Homo sapiens: one gene and its partners. The protein of the gene in region 1 purifies or fractionates together with the protein of each later gene. This does not show direct contact. Each region holds a gene or a part of one and is shown on either strand. Other genes may lie near its edges.

Region 1 (4,045 bases):
ATATCACTTCTTTTTTTGAATTTTATAAGAAATATATTTTTAAATTATTTTAAAATTAATATTATTTTTAATTGACAAATCATAATTGTTTACATTTATGGGGTACAGGGTAATGTTTTGGTATATGTATACAATGTGGCATGATTAAATCAAGCAACATACCTATGGTCTTGCTTACCTATCATTTTTTATGGTGAGACATTTGAAATTTACTCTTAGTTATATTGAAATATACAACATATTATTATTCACTAATCTCCTTGCTGTGCAATAGAACTCAAAACTTATTCCTCCTAACTGAAACTTCGTACCCTCTGATCAACTCCCTATTCCCTCCTTCCCCACCCTTTCTACCTTCCAGCGCCTGGAAACCACCATTCTACTCTCTATTTCTATGAATCCAACTTCTAAATTTATTTTTAAATTAAATTAAATTTTAGTTTTGAGACAGGGTCTCACTCTGTGTCCAGGCTGGAATGTAGTGGCATGAACATGGCTCACTGTAGCCTCAACTGCCTGGGCTCAAGAGATTCTCCCACCTCAGCCTCCCGAGCAGCTGGGACCACAGGTGTGCGCCATCATGCTTAACTTATTTTTTTTTGTCTGTAGAGACAGGGTCTCACTTTGTTGCCCAGGCTGGTTTTAAATTCCTGGGCTCAAGTGATCCTCCAGCCTCGGCCTCCCAAAGTGTTGGGATTATGGGCATGAGCCACAGTCCCTGCCTGGCCTGAGTCAACTTTTTCAGATGTCACACTTAAGTGAGAACATGCAGTGTTTGTTTTTCTATTCCTGGCTTATTTTGTCTAACATACGTCCTCTAGGTTCATCCATGTCACAAATGATCTTTCTTTTTAAAGGCTGAATAATATTGTGTATATATACCACATTTTCTTATCCCTTTATCCATTGATAGACACTTAGATTGATTTCGTATCTTGTGTATATAGCACATTTTCTTATCCATTCATCTGTTGATGGACACTTAGGTTGATTTCATATCTTGGCTATTGTGAGTAATGTGCAATGAACATGGGAGTGCTGCATATCACTCCTTTAAGTATAGGGCTGCTAGTATGATTGTTTGGCTATAAAAGATGTGCATGCTGACTAGTATTAGGAAGTGAGGTTGCAATGGTCTGTGTGGGTCCAGATCATGAAGGATCTTAAAATCTTGGCAGAGAAGCCTATTTTTAAGAGTAGGCCATGGAAGGCCATCATAGATTCTGGAACAGAGGAACCAGTGTACAGCATAGTGGTTCTAAGTTCATGCTGTAAAGTTAGGAGACCTGGGCTTGAATCCTGGCTGCTCTTTTATTAACTTTGTGACTCTGCCTAGCTGCTTAGCTTCTCAGAGCTTCAGTGCTTTTATCTGCAACATGGAAATAATAGCACCTGCCTCATTCTTTGTGAGAATGCATTTAAAGTATTGAGCACACTCCCTGTCACATAGTAAGCATTCTCAGTAAGTGCCAGCTACTATTATTTAGGAGGCTAAGGCTCTAGGTGATGAGGTCTACATGGGTGCAGTTACAGACGCAGGGAAATTGTGAGGAGCAAGTCATTCTAATCCTCTTAGAAGAAATGTCCATGGGGACACCCAGACTTCAACAAGACTTTGAGCCTAGTGATAATTAATGTAAGTTATGAAGTTCAAAACAGAAGTTAGACCGGGTTTCTAAGCACAAAAATTTGGCAACTTAAAATGATTTCAAAGTGGAATTATCACATCAGTATAACCTTATGATAATACATATCCCTCCTTCCTAAATTACTCATATCCTGATACCAGAACAAGAGTTTTAGAGCTCAGAAGGGTTAGTGTCTAAAATCATAGACTGAATTAGAAGTGACTTCAGTAGGCTTAGAAAATACCACTTTGTAGGAAAAAAACAACCTCTCCTCCCAAACCAATTTTACCAAAGACTGCAAAATAGATAAATATTTTAAAAGTAGAGAAGACTCAATTATAGGCTAAACTCTTTATCATACCTTGTCTGTGTGTTTAATGTGGCAATGGTCACCAAAGTCCCTTGAAGTACAGTAATATTCATTTGTGCCTCCCCCATCCCCACTCTGCTCTTGAAGTTCCAGAAGGGCAGATCCAAAATAACATTTATCCTTGTATTGCCCATCGTTATTGAACAAGTAGATACTCAATTATTTGCTGAACTAAAATGAATTTGTGAAAATGGTCATTCTAAACGAAGGGCTGTGTTGGGACTTTGAGCTTCAATGTGGTTAGGCTTATTTTCTACAAAATTATTTTCCCAACATCCAGTGAGTTTTGAATTAAGAGAATTTGTTTAAATCCTACAGTAGACTTTTCAATCAATCTAAACCATCTCCTTAACTGAATATCTAGACAGAGAGAGAGAGTGAGAGACAGAGAGAGCGCGCCACAAGATTGTCCATATAGGAGCTCCAGAAATCCGCATCCACCCAAAATGCGTCCCGGGGCAGAGAAGTTTAGGCTGCGCTCCTCCCACCTCCTTGGATGGGTCCCAGCTGAGAATACTCACTGGGCTGAGCCAAGTTTGCTCTCCCTCTTCCCGAGCACTTTCGCAGGCTTTGTGTCTTCCACATCTTGCTGTAGTTCAGTCATCGGGGCCGTGTCTGGAGGGCACCTTCAGACTTCCGCGCGCCTGGCTCTGCCCCGGCTCGTCCCGGCTTCTAGGTCCGGGTGCGCAGGCCAAGCAAGCGGCGCCGTGCCCTCCCCTGCACCCTCCGCCCAGCGCATCCAGGCCGGGCCGCGCCAAGCTCCCGGGGCCGCGGACCTGGACACGTCGGAGCGGGCGCGATTGGTCCGACCCACTGTGGAAAAGCCGAGAGGGAGGGAAGGGGAGGGTCGAAGCGAAGTGACAGCCTCTTTCCCCAACCCAGGAGGCAGAGAAGAGAAAAAGGAAACCTGTTGAACGAGTCTTTCGGGAGAGGAAGCTAATTGGCCAAGCAGGTGGAACATTTGCCTAAGAAGGCACAATCTGTTTAGCCTCCTGGTAAATTAAGCTTTTTGTTTTCTATCCCGACTGTAACAGGGGGATTTTTAGAGGGCAGCCGGCTCTAGATACCGGAAATGGAGACGTCTGAGTGGGACGCCCTGTCACACAAATGCGCTGTGTGGGCTGGCCTATGCCCCATCCTAAATTATTCAAACAGGATATTGCTTCATTGAGGGACTGCCTCTTCTGCTTAAACAATAGGTCTGCTCAATTTTTTATGTGGGAATAACAAAGGTAATAAGTAGTTGCCTTTGGTGGTGTTTTGGTTAACCCTTCATCGTTCTGGGGTGGGGGGGGTGGTTAGAGGGGCAAAGAAGAAGCAACCATCAAAATCTTCAAATATTGGGTTATGACTGTTCTCATCAAAATCAAAATTGGTGTTTGATAATTCCCAAGCCGTCTCTTTGTTGCCCATAGTTGTGCAAGTACCTTATTTACTATGCACTCAACCAGTACCGTGAATGCCTCTTCTTCCCACCTTTTGGTGACATTTTGACTTGCCTGTTCTAAGGTTTTGTATTGGAAGCATTCACTCATTCATTCATTGAACAAACTTTTGAGAGCTACAAAGTTCCAGGCATTGTTCTCAATCAGGGGTGTCCAATCTTTTGGCTTCCCTGGGTCACATTGGAAGAAGACGAACTGTCTTGGGCCACACATAAAATATACTAACACTAAGGATAGATGATGAGCTTTAAAAAAGGTCTGTGCAGGGGCCAGGCACGGTGGCTTACGCCTGTAATCCCAGCAGTTTGGGAGGCCGAGGCGGGTGGATCATTTGAGGTCAGGAGTTCGAGACTAGCATGGCCAACCTAGTGAAACCCCATCTCTACTAAAAATACAAAAATTAGCTGGGTGAGGTGGCGCAGGCGCTTGTAATCCCAGCTATTTGGGAGGCTGAGGCAGGAGAATCACTTGAGCCTGGGAGATGGAGGTTGTGGTGGGCCAAGATGCACCACTGCACTCCAGTCTGGGCAACAGAGTGAGACCCTGTCTCAAAAAAAAAAAAAAAATCCGTGCATAAATGTCACCATGTTATAAGACAGTTT
Region 2 (3,228 bases), on another chromosome or scaffold:
CATGGATGTAGTTTCAGCTGCCACCTACACCAGATCAGCAATTTTTAATAAGTCATTTGTTCATATCCTGTTCAAAACCATTCTTCCTACTTTCCACACAATATGCACAATGCTTTCTTTCATTTAAATATTTACAAACAGAAAAGGCCTATCTTTTAAAGAAAAGACATTTTCTGAGTCTCTATAAAGTGCAGCTAATTTAAGGCAAATTTAAGTGAAATATAAAAGTGGCTTATTCTCTCTCTATATACATTTCCCAGCTTTAAAAGATAAGGTCTCCTCCCCTCAAAAAAAGGAAAGAGAAAAAAAGAGGGCTTTAATTTTTTTTCTGGCAATTTTAAAATGTAAGATCTTACTGGTTGTAGGAAATCATAGATTTCTGAACATCATAAGTAAAATGGTCTTCTTCTTTAAAAAAATAACTTTTATATAGCTTCTTCAAACAAGTTAAAAGGTGGCAAAGTATCTGCTACAGTAGTTTGGAGGACTAGAGGACTGATGGGTAAGTAAGGGTTGTTTTGTTGTTAGGTAAATAGATATTAGGCAGTCCATTTCTAAAATATGCCTGATGAAGCTAGATACCTAAAGCTACCCTTAGCTCCAGGAATGAGTATCTTCCATCTCCATCGGAATCAAATGCTCTCAAGCTCTCTGGTTCTGGCATAGCAGAACCTAGGGAGGTCCAGATTTCCTGGTAGGTCAGCTTCCCATCCACGTCCTGGCCAGTCTTGCGGAATAAATCCTGAAGATCTGTCAAAAATGAATTACAAAAAATGTATACGTCTAAACATACAGCTAAATTTAGTTAAAAGTAGTCTCAACTGAATTTAAAACACTAAAAGAAAAGCTACTCCGCAAATTTTGTTTCCAAATGGTAAAGTTTAGGATTTCACTAAATCAGGAAGACTAATTTTTGATCCCTTAAAAATATATTAAAAAAAAAAAAAAAAAAAAGGCTGGGTGCAGTGGCTTATGCCTATAATCCCAACACTCTGGGAGGCTGAGGCAGGAGGATTGCTTGAGGCCAGGAATTTGAGACCAGCCTGGGCAACACAGTGAGACACTGCCAAAGTAGAAGCAGTGACAGATAATCGCAGGAGAATGAATGGTCTCATCTTCTCTCTGTCCAGCGTCTTCCCTTTAGATTTTCCTGAATTTATTCTTATGTTGAAGGGGTGAAAAGGAATGCAGAGGCCTAATGAGTTATGTGATAGGAGCTAGCTCATAAAACAGACTGTGGCATATTGTGAGATTTCTTGTTGGATGGCTGAGTGGAGACTGGAGGAATGACTTGGAAGCCCATAAAACAATCCCAAACACTCATAGCTTTCTCAGTTTTGACAGGAAATCCAAAGCTCAAAGAGGAAAGTAACTTGCCTACGGTCATGTAACTCTTAAGTGGAATACAATACAAATTTCTTTTCTTTTTTTTGAAGCTAAGTCTCACTCTGTCGCCCACGCTGGAGTGCAGTGGCGCGATCTTGGTTCACTGCAACCTCTGCCTCCTGGGTTCAAGTGATTCTTGTGCTTCAGCCTCCTGCGTAGCTGGGATTACAGGCGCCCGCCACCACGCCCAGCTAATTTTTTTTAATGTTTAGTAGAGATGGGGTTTCACCATGTTGGCCAGGCTGGTCTTGAACTCCTGACCTCAGGTGATTCGCCCACCTGGGCCTCCCAGAGTGCTGGGATTATAGGCGTGAACCACCACGCCTGTTTTTTTTTTTTTTTTTTTTTTTTTTTTTTTGGTGGAGTCTTACTCTGTCACCCAGGCTGGAGTGCAGTGGTATGATCTTGGCTCACTGCAACCTCTGCCTCCTAGGTTCAAGCTATTCTCCTGCCTCAGCCTCCTTAGTAGCTGGCATGACAGGTGTGTATCACCAGGCCTGGCTAATTTTTGTATTTTTAGTAGAGATGCGGTTTCATCATGTCGGCCAGGTCTCTAACTCCTAGCCTCAAATGATCTGCCCACCTCAGCCTCCCCAAAGTGCTAGGACACCACACCTGGCCTAGAATACAAATTTCTTATTACCTAGTCCAGTGCTCTTTCTACTATGTGACACTTGTCTCTCTGGATCCAGAAATTAAGCAGCTCAAGAACCAGTGACTCAAAAGTGTAATGAGATACCATGTCATAATCACTACGATGGCTATAATAAAAAAAGACAGGCCTTACCAAGCATTAGGGAGGATGTGGAGAAAGTGGATTGAACCCTCACACATTGCTGATGGGAATGTAACATGGTACAGCCACTCTGGAAAAGTGTAGGAGTTCCTCAAAAAGTTAGGGCTATCATATGACCCATTAATTCCATTCCTAGGTATATATATACTCAAGGCAAATGAAAACATATGTTTACATAAAAACTTGCACATGAATGTTCATGGCAGCATTACTCTTAATAGCCCAAAAGTGAGAACAATCGAAATGTCCATCAACGGATGAACAGACCAAAATGTGTTAGGTCAACAGAATGGAATATTATTCAGCCATAAAAAGGAACGAAGTACTGATACATGCTCCAACATGAATAGACCATAAAAACATTATGCTAAGTGAAAGAATCATATTGAAAGAAAAAGCACACACAAGGCCACATACTGTATGATTCCATTTATGTGAAACACCCCAAATAGGCAAATCCATAGAGATAGTGATTAAGAGACTAGTGGTTGCTGGAGACTGGCAGGAGAGGGGACTGGGAGTGACTGTTTAATGGGTACAGAGATTCTGTGAGGGGTGATGAAAATGTTCTGGAATTAGATAGTGGTGATGGTTGCATGACCTTGTGAATACACTAAAAAACACTGGATTAAAAACACTGCATTTTAAAAAGGTGAATGTTATGGTATGTGAATTGTATTTCAATAAAAAAGAACCAGAGGAATTATCTCTCCAAAGTGCATGCTCTCTACTTTTTAAAAATCAGTAAAAAGAAAAAGAGCAATATTACCAGTTGATCTGTATCTTTTTTATTTCAATGGCAATATTGAGCCAAAATGATTAGAGAATGTCTATCAATAGTTTCTTCTGGCATTTTCTCAAGGGCCTCATCACAAACACTTAGGAAGGTCAGTTATATACATAACTTTTTTTTTTTTTTTGAGACAGGGTCTCCCTCTGTCACCCAGGTTAGAGTGCAGTGGCATGATCACAGCTCACTGTAGCCTCAAACTTTTAGGCTCAGGCTATTCTCCCGAGTAGCTGGGATTACAGGGTGTGCGCTACCA
Region 3 (3,500 bases), 8.5 Mb from region 1:
CATCACCATGTGATCGCCTTGGGTGTCCAGCCCCAGCACCGCATTGGCCTCTTCTGCTGCCCTGTCCTGGCCCATCGGGTCATGCAGGAGCTCCTCCTCACCCAGGTACACAGCCCCCACCTGGAGAGGGTGAGCAGGCTGCTCCTCTGACCATAAGCGACCACTTTCCTCTGCAACTAAAACATGCCAGCACATTCAGAGTCATATTTGACTTCAAAACAAATGAACCCCAAAGAATTACAGTTCCCCTCTAACACGAAATTTTCCCCTCTGGAGACAAAAAGGTCTCCTTTCATTAAACTATCAGAGAGCTACTCACCATTTCCCAGGTTAGGAAGAAGGTCACAAGCAGGTACTATTAATAAATTAATGAATGTCAAAGAAGGCCGGGCATGGTGGTTCACACCTGTAATTCTAGCACCTTGGGAGGCCCCAAGTCAGGTGGATCACTTGAGGTCAGGAGTTCAAGACTAGCCTGGCCAACATGGTGAAACCCTGTCTCTATTAAAAATATAAAAATTAGCCGGGCATGGTGGCAGGCACCTGTAATCCCAGCTACTAGGGAGGCTGAGGCAAGAGGATTGCTGGAACCTAGGAGGCGGAGGTTGCAGTGAGCCAAGACTGCGCCACTGCACTCCAGTCTGGGCGACAGAGCAAGACTCCGTCTCAAAAAACAAACAAACAAACAAGCAAACAAAATAATGAATGTCAAATAATAGACAAACACACAGCTCTGCCCTAAACTTGCTGCTTGCCATGTGGATTATAACCAAAAACATTCCAGTTCAGATATCTCATTAGGAAAATAGAATATAAACACTTTCATTTTTTGATAAGAGTTTCATTTGTTTGATAATATCCAAGAAAAGGATCATGGTTTTATGCAAGATTCTACTAGAACAAAGCATCTTTGCACACATTATAACAGTCCTGTGAGATGGGCAAGACAAGGGTTACCAAGACCACTGAACAGGTAACGAGGCAAGGCACAGAGAGGCTCAGCACAGTGTCCGATGGTACACAGATAGTAAGCAGCAAAGCCAAGTCTGCGAGCAAAGTTTTCTGGCTGCTACTCCAGAACGAGCCGTAGGCTCCCTGCCATGATACCTCGGGGATGCTGAGCCACACTGCCTGAAGAACACTGTTCAAGCCACACAGCAGCTCCTTCCTGAGGTGGCCTCTGACAGCTGGACTCTGCTCTCCTGCCTGCCACCCTTGGGCTGCTGCCCTTGGGAGTGCTGGGAGATGGGCTCGGCAGTGCAGAGGCAGCAGCAGGAGGAAGAAGAGAACTTTCCCCCACTTTGGAGCTAGAAGGTGGGTCTTGAGCATAATGCTCAGATAAGGGAAGAGTCCCAGGTAGTCTCGTACATCTATTTACCCAACTCCACTCACCTCCATAGCAATGCCTCCTGCCCTCCAACTCATCAACTCAACACCAGCTGCCAGACTTTGTGCCAGGCACCAACCAGCAGAAACCAGTGAGGCCAGCAGCCCTCACGAAAGCTCACCATGTGGTTAAGAAACCACCCGCTGGGTGATGAGTTCTGCGTGCCAACAGCATGTCACTGGAGTGTCAGTGACCAACTGACTTCAAAGTTGGGAAGGTCTGGGGGCTTCCTCAGGTATGCACATTTGTATAAGATTTCAAAGAATATCCCTGTAGAGCTTTTTGTTGTTGCTGATGCATAACAGATGTACATGTGATAATCACAAAGCACATGTGATAATCAATATATTCATGCAATTTGTAAAGATCAGATCAATGTATTTGGGATATCCATCACCTTAAATATTTGTCTTTTCTTCATGCTAGAATCATTCAAATTCTTCTCTTCTAGCTATTTTAAAATATACAATAGGCTATTATGAACTACAGTTACCCTACTGATCTACCTCACACTAGGGCATAGAGCTCTGTGGATTCATTCAGAGATTCAAAAACATTATCTGGGAATTCTGCTTCTGGCCAAGATGGAGTAACAAGAACCAGATTTACCTTACCTACTGAAACAACCAAATAGATAATATATATAAAACAACAGTTTCAGGAAATCAGTTATGAGGCAACAGAGGATAGTGACATCCGAGAAACAGGCGACAAATGAAGAGAACCCTACAACTGCTCCAACTTACTGCCTTGATGGCGTTCCCACTGTGGCTCAGGGAGGGGAAATCCAGGCAGAGCCCAGCAGACTCTCCCAGTTGAGGAGATGGAGCTAAGAGTCCAAGGAGACCAAGAAGCCATAGTTTGCAAGACAGAATACTGCAGATGAGAGGAGCTATCTAGAGAGGGGACTCCAGAGATCTGCAGAGGCCCCCCCAAGTATACAGCAGGGTACGGGTCATCACATGCATGTGAGTAAACTACCCAGTGCCAGAGAAAGAACTACCAGAAAGGATGGGAAGGAACAGTACCCAACATTCACACAGAGCAGGGAATGGTACCTCTTCTTACCAGCTAGACTGAAAAACTTCATAATTCACAGGGTATTGAGTAGAGTATACAAAAGGACCTGCGTCAGTAGTGGGACACTATTAACCCTAAAGAAAATAACAGCTTGCTTGCTTAAAAGCAAAACCTGAAAGAATCAAGCTGTTCTCAAGTAACTTCACTGTACCCCAGAACAAAGCTCAAGAATATATATACGGGGCCAGGTGCAGTGGCTCACGCCTGTAATCCCAGCAATTTGGAAGGCCGAGGTGGGTGGATCACCTGAGGTCAGAAGTTTGAGACCAGCCTGACCAACATGGTGAAACCCTGTCTCTATTAAAATATAAAAATTAGCCATGCATGGTGGCGGGCACCTGTAATTTTAGCTACTCGGTAGGCTGAGGCAGGAGAATCACTTGAACCCAGGAGGTGGAGGTTGCAATGAGCCGAGATCATGCCACTGCACTCCAGCCTGGGCAACAAGAGAGAAATCCGTCTCAGAAAAAAAAAAAAAAAGAATATGTATAGGGAATCTAAAATATCCAGCATTCAACAAAGTAAAATTCATGTCTGGCATCCAGTAAAAAATTATCAGACATATAAGGAAGCAGGAAAATAGGACACATAATGAGAATAATCAATCAAGCCACACTGACCCAGAACTTGCACCCATGTCACAATTAGCAGACAAGGATATTAAAACAATAATTGTAACTGTATTGCATTCAAAAAGTAAAGTAGATATCAAGATATAAGATATTAAAAATATCAAATCGACCTGGGAGGCAGAGGTTGCAGTGAGCCAAGATCAAGCCATTGCACTCCAGCCTGGGCGAAAGAGTGAGACCCTGTCTCAAAAAAATAACTAAATAAAAATAAAAACAATCAAATTGGCCGGGCTCGGTGGCTCACACCTGTAATCTCAGCACTTTGGGAGGCTGAGGCGGGTAGATCACCTGAGGTCGGGAGTTCGAGACCAGCCTGACCAACATGGAGAAACCCCATCTCTACTAAAAATACAAAATTAGCCTGGCGTGGTGGCGCATGCTTGTAATCCCAGCTTTTTGGG
Region 4 (3,500 bases), on another chromosome or scaffold:
AGAAACTAAGTAATTGAGTATAATGCCTAGTAGTTAACTGGACCTGCCTGCTTAAAAAGCTTAAAAAGCAGCTATTGTTACTCAAGCATGCTGCTCAGGGGCTCATCTCTCCCTTCAAAACAGATTCTTTCTCCATGCTGTTCCCTTCTGTGAAAGAAAGAAAGAAAAAAAAAAAAACAGATTCTTTCCAGCACACACAGTACTTACCCTGGGGAAAATTCTGCTACTTACAAATTTCTCCATCTTATTATTCTTTTAATGATATTTATCCCCCTACAGACTGATGCCCAGGTAAAACTGCTCGGTAGCTCTGCTTTTTATATAGCTCTGAACAAAACCACATATTTTCCCACATAATCTCTGCTACTAACAGACTTTAAACTTTTTTCCTAAAATAAGGTAGGAGTCTGATATCTTATTTTTAACATTTTGTATACTGTATCCTTATTTATCTTGTATTCTGATTAGGACATGACAGTACCAGATATATTTTAAAAGGGATATCATATACTAACTCCTTTTGATGAATTTCCATCGAATGACTCTGTTTCTGAAACCCGACTAATTGATTCACTGGTAAAACTGATTGACTTGGATAATTTTTCATCTCTCTCCCCAGAGTCATCCAAGCTGCTTCTTCCTGGACTTCTGTAAGAAACACATCATTATAGAAATATAAGGTCACCTCCACACAAATAAATGATTTGGTCTCCTCACTGAGGTCATTTCCTATGATAAAACAGTTTGATAATAAATGGACTACTGTAATATAGCAAATAAATGTTTACTTATAACAAGGCTATCTTCTTAAATTACATGCAAGTTGATATCATTTCTGAAAACAAGATACACTCACATGGGATTCTATAAATCTCAAAAACATTAAAAAATTAACAAAGTACAAATGGCCGTAACAGTAACTAATCAAATGAAAATTGCTCCTTTAAATTTCATTTGTGTACAACCACAAAGCTTGGACAGGTACAGAGTAGATGTTTGAGTTAGATACTAGATCGCACAAGAAGGCAGTTTTATATCTCCTTCCTTCTGACTCAGTCTCAGCTGAAATGGCGAAGCCCTCCCAGAAGTGGACGCTCAAGATGTCTGAGCCTAAGCCCATTGGCCACTCCTGCCTCCTCACTCTTCCCAGCCCTAAGAACAAGGTTTAAGAAACAGCTGTCAAATGATCATATGGCCAAGACTATAATAAATGTCCTGGGATCTGCTTTCCCTTTCTCAAGGAGCAAAAAGAAAGGAAAACCTATTAAATACAATGGGAGCACAACTGATCTAATTTCCAATGCTCAACAGGATGGAGGTGAGATGTGGAAAAACAGAGAGGAAAGGAGGAGGAAGAAGGAAGGAGAGATTGCAAATAAAGAGGAAGAAGATGGAAGAACCGAGGAAATAAAGGTTTGAAACAGATATGCTTCTTTCAGAGACTGAAGAACAGGAAAAGAAGTAGAAGAGAGAATGAGGATCCTGCCACACACTTTCTTAGAAAGCATTCAGGCCGACCGGGCATGATGGCTCATGCCTGTAATCCCAACACTTTGGGAGGCTGAGGTGAGCTGATCATGAGGTCAAGAGATCGAGACCATCCTGGCCAACATGGTGAAATGCCGTCTCTACTAAAAAAAAAAAAAAATGCAAAAATTAGCTGGGCGTGGTGGCACGCACCTGAAGTCTCAGCTACTTGGGAGGCTGAGGCAGAAGACTCGCTTGAACCCGGAGGCAGAGGTTGCAGTGAGCCAAGATCACGCCACTGCACTCCAGCCTGGTGACAGAGTGAGACTCCATCTCCAAAAAAAAAAGAAAGAAAGAAAAGAAAAAAAGAAAGCATTCAGGCCAGGTGCAGTGGCTGACACCTGTAATCCCAGCACTTTGGGAGGCCGAGGCAGGGTGGATCACTTAAGGTCAGGAGTTCAAGACCAGCCTCATCAACATGGCAAAATCTCTACTGAAAATACAAAAAGTAGCCAGGCGTGGTGGTGGGCACCGCAATCCCAGCTACTTGGGAGGCTGAGGCAGGAGAATCGCTTGAACCCAGGAGGCGGAGGTTGCAGTGAGCCAAGATCGCACCACTGTGCTCCAGCCTGGGTGACAGAGTGAGACTCAGTCTCAAAAAAGAAAAAAAAGAAAGCATTCAATCGCCAGAAGAAAACAGCAGCTAGTCAAAAATATTCTTTCTTTCCTCAAAGACTAGAAACTTTTCAAGTTGGCAAGGACCTTAAAGATAATCTAGTTCAGCTGCCTCATTTCATAGACGAGAAAACTGAGAATCAAAAAAATGAAAAGATTTGCCTGAGGTTGCTCGGCTGTTTGGTGACCCTAACTAAGATCCAGATCCTGTTTACCATAATCCAAGGCTCTTTGCATTAGAGTAACTGCTTTTCTATCCAAATCCAGAGCCGGCAAGAGGCTACTAAACTTCTCAAGGAGAACAATACAATGGAAATTTTTAACTTTACAGAAAGCTAATAAAATATACATGTGCAACCATGTAAAAAAGCCTATAAAATACTGATGCTAAGCTGAAAAGATATAAATTGGATCAGCATAAGTAGATTACCTAGATGAGTAAAATTTCTGCACATACTTTGAGACTTTCAAAATATTTCCATTTTAAGATTTGCTATAGAATTTCTAAATAACAGCTTTTAAGATATAATCCACACACCACAAAATTCACTTCATGTAAAGTGTACAATTTAGTGGGTTACAGAGTTGGGCAACCATCACCACTAACTAATTGTAGAACATTGTCATCACCCCAACAAAGAAATGCTTTGCAGTCACTTGCAGTCACTCCCCATTCTCCCTTCCTATCAGCTCCTGGCAACTACCATTTACTTTCTGTCTCTATAAACTTACCAGTTCTAGACTCCATTTCACATACATGGAATCATACAATATATGGCCTTTTGTGACTGGCTTTTTTCACTCAGCATAATGTTTGCTATAGAATTTTAATGTATTCTCCTTAATTGTTTTTATTGCTAACAGCCTCAATTTCCACTGGACATAATGCACTTTTACTTGTAGAGGTTAATAAAAATGTCCACTCTTCTAAATGAATCCTCATCAGTCAAAAATAGTCTCTCTGTACTCTTAATTTCTTTATCACATTATCTGTTACTCTGTTATGACTCTTACCATTATCGACCTTGTATTACAATTATTTGCATTCCACGGTAGGCTATATGCTCCTTCCATTAATGTATTCAATATTTATGGAGTGCCAACCACATGCTAAGCACTATGTTAGGGAATTCCTGAGGAAAAATCATGTTATTGTATCCTTCAAAACACCTACCATATAATTTACTTTACTGTCATCTATAAACTCAGAGATTTCACTAGGTACTTCTCCAGATCCTTAATAAACAGGCTTACTAAAACCAGACTTTAAGTCTACCCTAAGTGACATAGCCAACATTTCCTTATATATCTCATATGTGCTTACCTATTTAGCAAACTATTCTCTGTCCCCACCTTTC

What was found. Proteins that work in one complex are often made in the same cells at the same time.
Region 2: the proteins of GRAMD2B (region 1) and EFCAB14 purify together in Homo sapiens (affinity purification with mass spectrometry; 3 studies listed by BioGRID and IntAct, with this or other methods). This does not show direct contact.
Region 3: the proteins of GRAMD2B (region 1) and TXNDC15 purify together in Homo sapiens (affinity purification with mass spectrometry; 3 studies listed by BioGRID and IntAct, with this or other methods). This does not show direct contact.
Region 4: the proteins of GRAMD2B (region 1) and GRAMD1C purify together in Homo sapiens (affinity purification with mass spectrometry; 3 studies listed by BioGRID and IntAct, with this or other methods). This does not show direct contact.

Annotation. Positions count from the first base shown.
Region 1 is NC_000005.10:126,422,164-126,426,208, reverse strand, and holds the start of GRAMD2B (GRAM domain-containing protein 2B), read right to left. Parts: upstream 2,801-4,045; 5' UTR 2,603-2,800; coding exon 2,520-2,602; intron 1-2,519.
Region 2 is NC_000001.11:46,677,887-46,681,114, forward strand, and holds part of EFCAB14 (EF-hand calcium-binding domain-containing protein 14), read right to left. Parts: intron 751-3,228; coding exon 575-750; 3' UTR 1-574.
Region 3 is NC_000005.10:134,884,371-134,887,870, reverse strand, and holds part of TXNDC15 (thioredoxin domain-containing protein 15 isoform 1 precursor), read right to left. Parts: intron 177-3,500; coding exon 1-176. UniProt on the Homo sapiens protein: Acts as a positive regulator of ciliary hedgehog signaling. Involved in ciliogenesis.
Region 4 is NC_000003.12:113,901,288-113,904,787, reverse strand, and holds part of GRAMD1C (protein Aster-C), read right to left. Parts: intron 649-3,500; coding exon 516-648; intron 1-515. UniProt on the Homo sapiens protein: Cholesterol transporter that mediates non-vesicular transport of cholesterol from the plasma membrane (PM) to the endoplasmic reticulum (ER).